3 linked regions of the Homo sapiens genome follow. The protein of the gene in region 1 purifies or fractionates together with the protein of each later gene. This does not show direct contact. Each region holds a gene or a part of one and is shown on either strand. Other genes may lie near its edges. The genes, in order: NCAPH2, ALDH3A2 and MIS18BP1.

What was found.
Region 2: the proteins of NCAPH2 (region 1) and ALDH3A2 purify together in Homo sapiens (affinity purification with mass spectrometry; 3 studies listed by BioGRID and IntAct, with this or other methods). This does not show direct contact.
Region 3: the proteins of NCAPH2 (region 1) and MIS18BP1 purify together in Homo sapiens (affinity purification with mass spectrometry; 2 studies listed by BioGRID and IntAct, with this or other methods). This does not show direct contact.

The regions. Positions count from the first base shown.
Region 1 is NC_000022.11:50,514,717-50,518,371, forward strand, and holds part of NCAPH2 (condensin-2 complex subunit H2), read left to right. Parts: intron 1-1,003; exon of another isoform or gene 1,004-1,031; coding exon of another isoform or gene 1,032-1,058; intron 1,059-1,730; coding exon 1,731-1,832; intron 1,833-2,710; coding exon 2,711-2,766; intron 2,767-2,860; coding exon 2,861-2,945; intron 2,946-3,024; coding exon 3,025-3,093; intron 3,094-3,256; coding exon 3,257-3,336; intron 3,337-3,411; exon of another isoform or gene 3,412-3,416; coding exon 3,417-3,562; intron 3,563-3,655. UniProt on the Homo sapiens protein: Regulatory subunit of the condensin-2 complex, a complex that seems to provide chromosomes with an additional level of organization and rigidity and in establishing mitotic chromosome architecture.
Region 2 is NC_000017.11:19,665,657-19,669,311, reverse strand, and holds part of ALDH3A2 (aldehyde dehydrogenase family 3 member A2), read right to left. Parts: intron 1-3,655.
Region 3 is NC_000014.9:45,202,586-45,205,497, forward strand, and holds the end of MIS18BP1 (mis18-binding protein 1), read right to left. Parts: intron 1,869-2,912; coding exon 1,814-1,868; intron 1,628-1,813; coding exon 1,524-1,627; 3' UTR 605-1,523; downstream 1-604. UniProt on the Homo sapiens protein: Required for recruitment of CENPA to centromeres and normal chromosome segregation during mitosis.

The sequences.
Region 1 (3,655 bases):
TTACACTCCGTAGACGACCATGCTGCTGTTTCCTCTCCCTTCCTCCCAGATCTGACAAACACCCTTTATCCTTCAAGAGCTAATGGAAGTGACTCCCCTTGGGGATGGCTTCCCAGCCTCTGCCACTCCTTCGTGCTACCATGGTGCCTAAAATCTTGCCTCTCCCCAGCACGCGCCATGCTTTGGCCATGTTTAGATCATGCTCATTTTCCTGAAGAGACGTGTCCAGTCTCTGCTAGCTGCCTTCACGTTCCCTTCATCTGTCTGGTGAGCCTCTGCGTTTTTCAGGCTTAGCTTTGACATTATCTATGCATGTGTTCATCAAATATTTACTGGACACCAGTGTCAGGCACTGAACAGAAGGCTGGAATTACACTAATGCTGCTCACACAGTTCACTAAGGGACACGATCACACTAAGGGAGCGGCACAGAGGCCCCAGGAATGGAGGGGCTCTGAAAAAGAGTTTGCGTGGGGACAGCTGGGGGTCGGTGTTCCAGGCAGATGGAAATGCAAAATTGAAGAGCTGGAAAGACACCTAGGGGCTTCAAAGTGTCGTTTGTGGCTGGGCACGGTGGTGCATGCCTGTGATCCCAGTGCTTTGGGAGGCTGAGGCAGGAGGATCACTGGAGGCCAGGAGTTTGAGACCAACCTGGGCAACATAGAGAAACCCTGTCTCTACAAAAACATTTTTTTTTTGAGACGGAGTCTCGCTCTGTCGCCCAGGCTGGAGTGCAGTGGCGCGATCTCGGCTCACTGCAAGCTCCGCCTCCCAGGTTCATGCCATTCTCCTGCCTCAGCCTCCCGAGTAGCTGGGACTACAGGCGCCCGCCACCACGCCCAGCTAATTTTTTGTATTTTTAGTAGAGACGAGGTTTCACCGTGTTAGCCAGGATGGTCTCGATCTCCTGACCTCATGATCTGCCCGCCTCGGCCTCCCAAAGTGCTGGGATTACAGGTGTGAGCCACCGCACCCGGCCTTTTTTTTTTTTTTTTTTTTAAAGTGTCATTTGCTGAGAAGGAATACAGGAGATGAGCCAGCGTTGGGGAAGATGTTGGGTAAAGTATGGAAGTAAAGTGTTTGGGGACATTTGAATGTACTCTGTGGACAGCTATGAATGCAGCCCCAGAGCTAAGGAGAGAGAGCTGGTCGGGTTGGGTTTGGGGCTCATTGGCTTATGGTTGGCAGCTTGGGCATGGGATGAAGGAATGTGCATGGCGGGGGGTGGAGCGCCTGGCGCACTGACGTTTAAGGGGTGACAGAGGAGCTGGGGCTCCGGGAGGCTGAGGGGAGCAGAGGAAGGATGGCGACTCACCTGTAACTGTTTCCTGAGTTCTCTGCTCAGAGGATGGAGACCTCAGCATTTTATCTCTGCCTTTCCTACCCCTGAGGTTCCCTTTTCTTCTCTGTGTCGGGGATCTTCCTGCTGGAGTCTGTCAGCCTCTGGCGCCTTGTGGAGGGAGCCGCTGTGCTGCCCTGGTTGTTTGTAGACAGTGTGCCCTGGGGGCCTTCCACTTCCAAAACAGGTTTTTGTTATAGGAAGTAGGGGGAAACACAGAGACCTGTCTCTGCCCCGAAATACCAGGGACAACCGGTGAGCCCACAGCATAGCTAGAGCTGCCCGTCTCGGGAGGTGCTGGGCAGAGACCAAAGATGGGTGGGGCTGCCCTGGAAGAAGCGAGTGCAGACTGGGCCTTGGATTCCCCCTGTCTTTGTGTTGTTTCTTGCAGCTGGATCAGATCTGCATTTCTTTTGACGAAGGCAAGACCACAATGAACTTCATTGAGGCAGCGTTGTTGATCCAGGGCTCTGCCTGCGTCTACAGTAAGAAGGTGGGCCCTGCTTGACGCTGGTCTTGGCATTTTGGTGGCCAGTGGGACCACAGTCGGCTCTCCTTCTGGGGCAGGTGCAGTGGTCGTCCCGTCTGTGACCTACCTCCCTCTCTCCTCAGGTCTCAGCCAATTCCTCAGCACCTTCCAACACCAAGAACAATTTTTAATTTAAAATCGCACAGCCAGGCAGGGAGGGTCTTTTGTGCTGTTGGGCTCTGTTGTCTTGGGGGAATGACACCTGCTGTGTGCACTTGGACACAGCCCAGGGTGCCACCTGCACCCACCTTCCCCTTCCCCGTCCCCTACTTGTGGGTGCCTCATTGTCAGCACCTAGAAAGTCCACAACCACCACCCTCACGGTGGGGCCTCTGTTCTGTGGAGGAGAAGGACAGGAAGTGAGTGACGGGCTCTGTCCTGCAGGCCCCGTGGCGGCAGGAGCTGGGACAGGGCAGGGCCAGGACAGGAGGAGGGGCTGGGGTGATGCTGGCGGGAGCACACGGGCGGAGGAGCAGCAGGGCTGCAGGCCGTCGGCAGAGTGGGTGCCAAGCACGAGGGGCCTCACCACCAAGGACCGTGTGATGAGGCACACTGTGGGAACCACAGTGCTGTCAGGGTCACACGTTGAGAAGGCCACGCTCGCGGCTGCGTGGACCATAGAGGGCAGAGGAGAGATGTGGGTGGCCTCAGCTGGTAAAGTAATTCTCATGAGATTCCTGGTTTGATTTGAGAATTATTTTTGGAACCAAAATTGGTGGTTTCTTGTACTGGAGGTTTGGTGGTGGTGGCCAGGCCTCGTGGGGGCACCGATGGATAGCTGGGAAGGCCTTGGGGGTGGGCCCCTCCTTTCTGGGTCCTCACTGCCTGCATCTGGTCACCAGGTGGAATACCTCTACTCACTCGTCTACCAGGCCCTTGATTTCATCTCTGGAAAGAGGTGAGTTCTGCAGCCACTCACTGTGCTGCCCTGCATGTGGCCAGGGAGGCCCCTGCAGCTCCTGGGATGCCCACGGGATGTGCTTCTCTCTCAGGCGGGCCAAGCAGCTCTCTTCGGTGCAGGAGGACAGGGCCAATGGGGTTGCCAGCTCCGGGGTCCCCCAGGAGGCAGAGAATGAGGTGAGTTTCTTTGGCATGTGGTCCCCGCCCACTGTGTGTTTGCCTGGGCTCCGCCCCCACGAGCTCTGTCTCCCTCCAGTTCCTGTCGCTGGATGACTTCCCTGACTCCCGGACTAACGTGGATCTCAAGAATGATCAGACGCCCAGTGTGAGTCCTGGCCTGGCCCCTCTTAGGCTGGGGTGAGGTCAGCACTTTCCCTGGGGCTGTGTTGAGCTGATGGGGTGTGGGAAGGTGTCATTGCCCCATGTGGGTCCTGTTCTCCACTGGAGTGGAAGGGTGCCTGGCTCACCCACCCTTGGCCTCCATGCAGGAGGTCCTCATCATCCCCCTCCTGCCCATGGCCCTGGTGGCCCCTGATGAAATGGAGAAGAACAACAATCCCCTGTACAGGTAGGGATCTGAGCCCAGCGACGGGGAGGGAGGCCTGCCTGGGAAGGGTCTCTACAGCAGGCGTGTTTTTGCCAGCACAGCCGTCAGGGTGAGGTCCTGGCCAGCCGGAAGGATTTCAGGATGAACACGTGCGTTCCCCACCCCAGAGGGGCCTTCATGTTGGAGCCAGAGGGCATGTCCCCCATGGAACCAGCGGGCGTTTCCCCCATGCCAGGGACCCAGAAGGGTGAGGGCTTGGATGCGGGGGGCTTGGTGGGAAGGAAGGGAGGGTCTTCTGGTTGGACTCTTGTGGGGTGCCCTGTGCTTGCCACCTCTGGTC
Region 2 (3,655 bases), on another chromosome or scaffold:
TGTTTTTTTGAGATGGAGTCTCGCTCTGTTGCCCAGGCTGGAGTGCAGTGGCATGATCTTGGCTCACTGCAGCCTCCGCCTCCCAGGTTCAAGCGATTCTTCTGCCTCAGCCTCCCAAGTAGCTGGGACTACATGTGCATGCCACAATGCCCAGCTAATTTTTTTTTTTGTATTTTTTGTGGAGATGAGTTTTCACCATGTTGGCCAGGCTGGTCTCAAGATTCTGACCTCGGGTGATCTACCTGCCTCGGCCTCCCAAAGTGCTGGGATTATAGGTGTGAGCCACCATGCTTGGCCAACTCCATGGTTAAATGGAAAGAAAAGAAAAGAAAAAAGAAAAGAAAAGAAGAAAAGGAGGGAGGGAGGGAAGGAAACTACAGATAATATTTAATTATTTATTTATTTTATTCTTATTTTTTTGAGACAGAGTCTCGCTCTGTTGCCCAAGCTGGAGGTACAGTGGTGCACTCTCTGCTCACTGCAACCTCCGCCTCCAGGGTTCAAGTGATTCTACTGCCTCAGCCTCCTAAGTAGCTGGGATTACAGGTGGTGCCGCCACACCCAGCTAATTTTTTGTATTTTTAGTAGAGACGGGGTTTCACCATGTTAGCCAGGTGCCTTGGCCTCCCCAAGTGCTGGGATTACAGGTGTGTGCAACCGCACCCAGCCTACAGATGATATTTATATAATAATGAAATAGGGAAAGCTTTTCTAAGCCTACTTTCCAAATCGGAAACCAAAAAACAAAAAGCCACACAGGCTTAGGCCAGATGTGGTGGCTCATGCCTGTAATCCCAGCACTTTGGGAGGCTAAGGCAGGTGGATCACCTGAGATCAGGAGTTGAGGACCAGCCTGGCCAACATGGTGAGACCCCATCTCTACTAAAACTACAAAAATTAGGTAGGAGTGGTGTCGGGTGCCTGTAATCCCAGCTACTTGGGAGGTTGGGGCAGGAGAATTGCTTGAAGCCAGGAGTCAGAGGTTGCAATGAACCGAGGTCGCGCCATTGCACTCCACCCTGGGTGACAGAGTGAGACTCTGTCTCTAAATAAATAAACGCTTCAAATCATAGATAAAATTAAAAGAAAAATTAAAATCTGGAAAGGGATATGTATTACAGATAGGACTGAGGATTTTCTTACTTATAAAAAAGGCTATTTATATACCAATAATAAGGAAGATGTGAACACAGCAAAAATATCAAAGGACATAAATAGAAAATTCATGAGAGTGGTAAAAAAAATTCAAACTCACTAATAATCAAAGGAGTACAAATTGAAATGAGACCCTTTTCTGTCTAGAAATTTAATAATGGAATAATCCAGAATTGGGGATATAAGGAAGTAAACACTCATATACTGATCATGGGAATATAAAGTGGCAGAAATCTGCAAAGACACTTGAAATATCTATCAAAAGTCTTAAAGAGAAGCATTTCTAAAGAAAAACCTAGGCTGGGTGCGATGGCTCACACCTGTAATCCCAGCACTTTGGGAGGCCAAGGCAAGTGGATCTCTTGAGCCCAGGAGTTTGAGACCAGGCTGGCTAACATGGCAAAACCGTGTCTCTACTAAAAATACAAAAATTAGCTGGGCCTGGTGGCACACACCTGTAGTTCCAGCTACTTGGGAGGCTGAGCCAGGAGAATTGCTAGAACCCAGGAGTTGGAGGTTGCAATGAGCTGAGATCACACCACTGCACTCCAGCTTAGGTGACAGGGAGTCTCAGTCTCGATAAAAAGAAAAAAAAAAGAAAAATCTAAACTATATGCCAAAATATTAAAAAGTTTAACTGTTTAGACTTTTTGCCACTGTGTCTATATTACTTTGAGAATTAGAAGAAAAAAGCATTTTTTTCAATTTGGAAAATTGTATAAGCCCTTTTAACAGAGTAATTACACTTGTAGACATTTTTCCTAAAGAAATAATCAGAGATTGCATAAAGATACATTATATAAGAATCGTAATACCAAAAAAATTGAAATCACAAAAATCTAATACTGGGAATTGGTTACATAAATATGCCACATTCATATGATGGAAAAGTATGCAGCTACTAAAATTATGACATGCAAGAATATTGACATGGAAAAGTGTCACACTATTCTGTCACATACAGGGTACAGAACAATATATAGTATGATACCTTTTTGAATAGAATATTCAGATGACCGTGTATATGTGTGTGCATATGTGTGCAAGACATATACCAGTTATCTTTACATAGTGGGGTTATGGGTAATATAAATGTTTATTCTTTGGGCTCTTCTATCTTTTCCAAGTTTTCTTAAAAAGCCTGTATTCTTTTTACATTTGGGGGTCAAGGCTTGTTTTTATTTTTTATTTTTATTTTTTTACAGCATGGCCACTATAATAATGTATTATATGCCTGAAATTTGCTAAGAGAGTAAACCTGTTTTTTTCTTTTGCATCTTCTTTTTGTATTTTTAATTTTTGTGGGTATATAATAGGTTGCTTGTTTTATTTTATTATTTTTATTTATTTATTTATTTATTTATTTATTTATTTATTTTGAGATCGGAGTCTCGCTCTGTTTGCCAGGTTTGAGTGCAGTGGCGCAATCTCAGCTCACTGCAACCTCCACCTCCCTGGTTCAAGCAATTCTCCTGCCTCAGCCTCCCTGGTAGCTGGGACTACAGGCACGCACCACCACACCCAGCTAACATTTGTATTTTTAGTAGAGATGGGGTTTCACCATGTTGGCCAGGCTGGTCTGGAACTCCTGACCTCAAGTGATCCACCCACCTCGGCCTCCCAAAGTGCTGGGATTACAGGCATGAGCCACTGCGCCCAGCCTTGTTTTGTTTTAAATAAGATGGTATAGTCAATGATGCCACAGGCTATCTTGTCAAGTAGGACAGGGACTGAACCCAAGTCACTTAGATTTGCAATTAGAGGGCAGTGGAGACACCATATGGAACAATTACCGAGTTGATTACTGCACTAGCACAGTGGATGCCAGGATCCTATGTGGTGAGCTGAGGAACAGAGACAACAGAGTCCAATCTTTTAAGCATTTGGGCTACAAAACTATTACTTACTCCAGCCAAAATCCCAGGAGTCATCCTCTCTCATTCACCCCCTCCTCCAACATTCACTCCATCAGCCAATCCTGCTGCTTGATCCCAAAAATACCCCCTTCCCTTTCCACTATCTCCCCTGCTACCACCCTCTACAAGCCACCACCATTTCCAATTTGGATCTGGCAATACCTACCAATTGGCCTCTTCCCGCCTGTCCCTCACTCATGTCAGTCACTGTGCTGGGTGCTGGCAATATGTTTACCTCCTAGACAAGGACCTGTGGCTATATAGGTCAAGGCTCCTTGGTCATAGGACAAGGTTTCCTTAACCAGGAACAGATGGTCCTGCCAAACTGGGCCATCGCATCCCATGGAGCAACTGACTTAGGACGGTATTACAAAGGGAGAGGATAGAACAGGGCTTTAAGACAGTGGCTTTTCTGGTTGGGTTTTTGTTATGAGAATGTTTACATATCGGCTATTTTGTAATAGCTCTAGTAGAGAGTAGAAAAGCCCACCTAGCCTAGGTCCCAAAGGAGAAATAAAAAGCTGAGTCAGTCATCTCACATGTGGGAGAGGCAGGCAGGTCATGTTCTAAAGGGAAAAGCAAGG
Region 3 (2,912 bases), on another chromosome or scaffold:
ACTTTTTGTTAAGGGATTTAACCACTTTCTTAACTCCTAAAACACTATCCATTAACTTCAAGCAGTATAGCATTAGATCAAATATTGGCAACTCAAGTTCTGCAACGGCATTTTTTTTGGCCACTCCAAAATAACCCTTTCTTTTGATCCATTCTATATCCACCAAGGGTCTTTATGGCAGAAATAATCATGGTAGTTTAAAGAAAGAATTATCTTAGTCCAATTGCACTGTTCTTTTTACAGTGTTTCCGTAAGTCCTATAATTATATAACTGCTGATTATTACTATTTTATTTTATTTATTTATTTATTTTAAAAGGAGTCTCTGTTACCCAGGCTAGGGTGCAGTGGCCAGTTGCAGGCATGATCATAGCACAGTTCAGCCTTGAACTCCTGGGCTCAAGCTATCCTCCTTCCTCAGCCTCCCAGGTAGTTGAGACTACAGATACATGACACCATGCCTGCTCTGACTAAAACACTTAAGAAACAAGAAAATGTTATTAATCATTTTTTTTTTTTTTGAGGAAACTTAAACAGGACCAGTCATGATTTGTTTTTATTTCTATCATCCAGTAATTAGTAACAAACAAAAAACAAGAAACAAATACTATAAAAGCAAACTAACTTTATTTGAATAATCTAAATAGAGAACAAGGGTAGGTGAATGTGTAGCCAGAGGGAAAATATCCTATGTCAAGTTTCAAAACATAACAAGCAAAAATAAGTTTATTTCTAAAAGAAATTTCAGTGAAAGAAAAAGGATGTTTATTATGACATAATATATTGATTCCTAATGGTGGATCTATTAACTGTTTGTCTAATCTAGTCAAAATATTTAAGCTGTTTCTGCATATGTAAATAAGGCTTAAAAATTAGAGAACAAAATCTGTTCTCTAATTTTACCTAGTAAAATAATGGTAAAGCAATAAACTAAATTTACAAAGGTTTCATAGATATGCCTATCACAAGTTTAAAATAAAAACAATCAGGAGAGAAGCATGTCAACAATGTGTAATTTAATTTCAACAATGTGTAATTTAAACATTAGGTTTGGATAACAACTGGTAACAAATCCTACTCTGGCTTGGATAATAACTGCTAACAAATGCTAACTTAAAAGTTTTCATGAATTCAATAGCTACCAATACAACCTCTGTCATCCTTCTCACCTTCTCTTACTTAAATGGTAGCAAAATTTTCTTGAAATAAAAAAAAATCTGTTTGGGAAATGGTTTTCTTAAAGTAAACAGACTTGGATGCTTATTAAAAAATTATCTATATATATTTTAATATGCAAAAACAAATTTACAGATATCTACACGAGCAAAAACAATTTTCTTTACATTTTTAGTAAGCTGCAGCAATGAGGATATTTTACTTTGAACACAAACATATGAAACCTTCAAAAAAGTCCACATTTTCATAGGAAGCTACTTTACAAAGAAAATACATGTACTCCAGTTGAAAATACAAACACTGTCTGCTTTATGGTAAAAATCCCAGGAATCATATTTTCTCATTTTACTATGCAGAATCAGAGTTCGAAAAATAATAATCTTTCTCTTCTTCATCTAAAGATTCCACAGCATTAGTGAAAAGTTTTCCAATACCAGAGTTTTCTCCTAAGTCTGTAAAGAGAAGTTTAATAAAAAGATAATAAATTTCTAAAAGTACTTTCAATAAAACTGAAAACAACTATAAGGAATAAAATGCTAAGTCTGTCCACTTGAGAGCAATTAATTTTAATACCATTTAAATAAAGAACCTACCTTATAATAGAACTGAGCCACAAAAGAAAGCTGTAAGTGTATTACCTGTGTTAAATGGGGTTTTCCTTCTTGGTGTTGGAGTTGAGAAATCAGTTTCAACCTATAAAAGAGTTACTATTAATAGCTAAATGGTACCTCCTGGTGAAGTCTACCTCAAATCTAGACAAAATTAAGCATGCTTATCCCCAGATTACTTTGAACATATGCCTATAACAACATTTAATCACATTATAATTATCTGTGAAATGCATAATTCTCTTTTGGGTTTATCCAGGGCAAGAACCATGACTTACTCAATGTTGTTTCCCAGTGCTGGCAAACACTCCTCTAAGAAATTATTATAAACTAATGCTATAGCAGTTAAAGGATAGTCTATGGGCCTCCAAAAGTTGCCAAAATGTGCTAAGTAATTAAGTAATGAATATACTGGTTTGGTAAACTTAAAATATAAACACAATTTATCATGATTATATATAGTAATTATAATTACAATACTATACTGTACTATTACAGTATAGTAATTACTATACAGAATACTAATTACTGTATTACTTTTACCTACAGTCTGTTATTATAACAGTACAATGTTTTATACCAGCAGAATTTTAATTCTCTGTACTTGAAATTCTTGGCTAAAATGGTAAAGTAAATGGCAAGTTTGAAGTACATGCTCACACACATTACAATGCTTATCAAACTATTGGCCATGGCTGGCAATCCTTAAAAATCTTTTAAAAATAAAAAGTAACAGAACAGAAAATATAGTAGCCCTTAGAGTAAGTACTGTTTTAAGAAATTTTTGAGATACAAATTCATGCTCACAGACTGTGATATAAATGTATTTTTTTCTGAGATGAGGTAAAACACTGCATTATATCATTTAGACCTCAAAATCATTTGGTAACATAAATCAATATAATCATGATCCCCATTGTCATACCACACATGAATAAAATGGTATTAGAAAGCTCAAGTAACTTGCTCAGTGTCATAAAGCAAGGGAATCAAGGGGGTTCCCATAAGTTACCATTCTCGAAGATTAGCTACTTAGAGGAAATTTGAGATGAAATACTTTTTCCAGAATCCTAGTACTTATATATGATAATCAGTTATTGCAATTAAAATCAGAAAATTAAAAATTTAA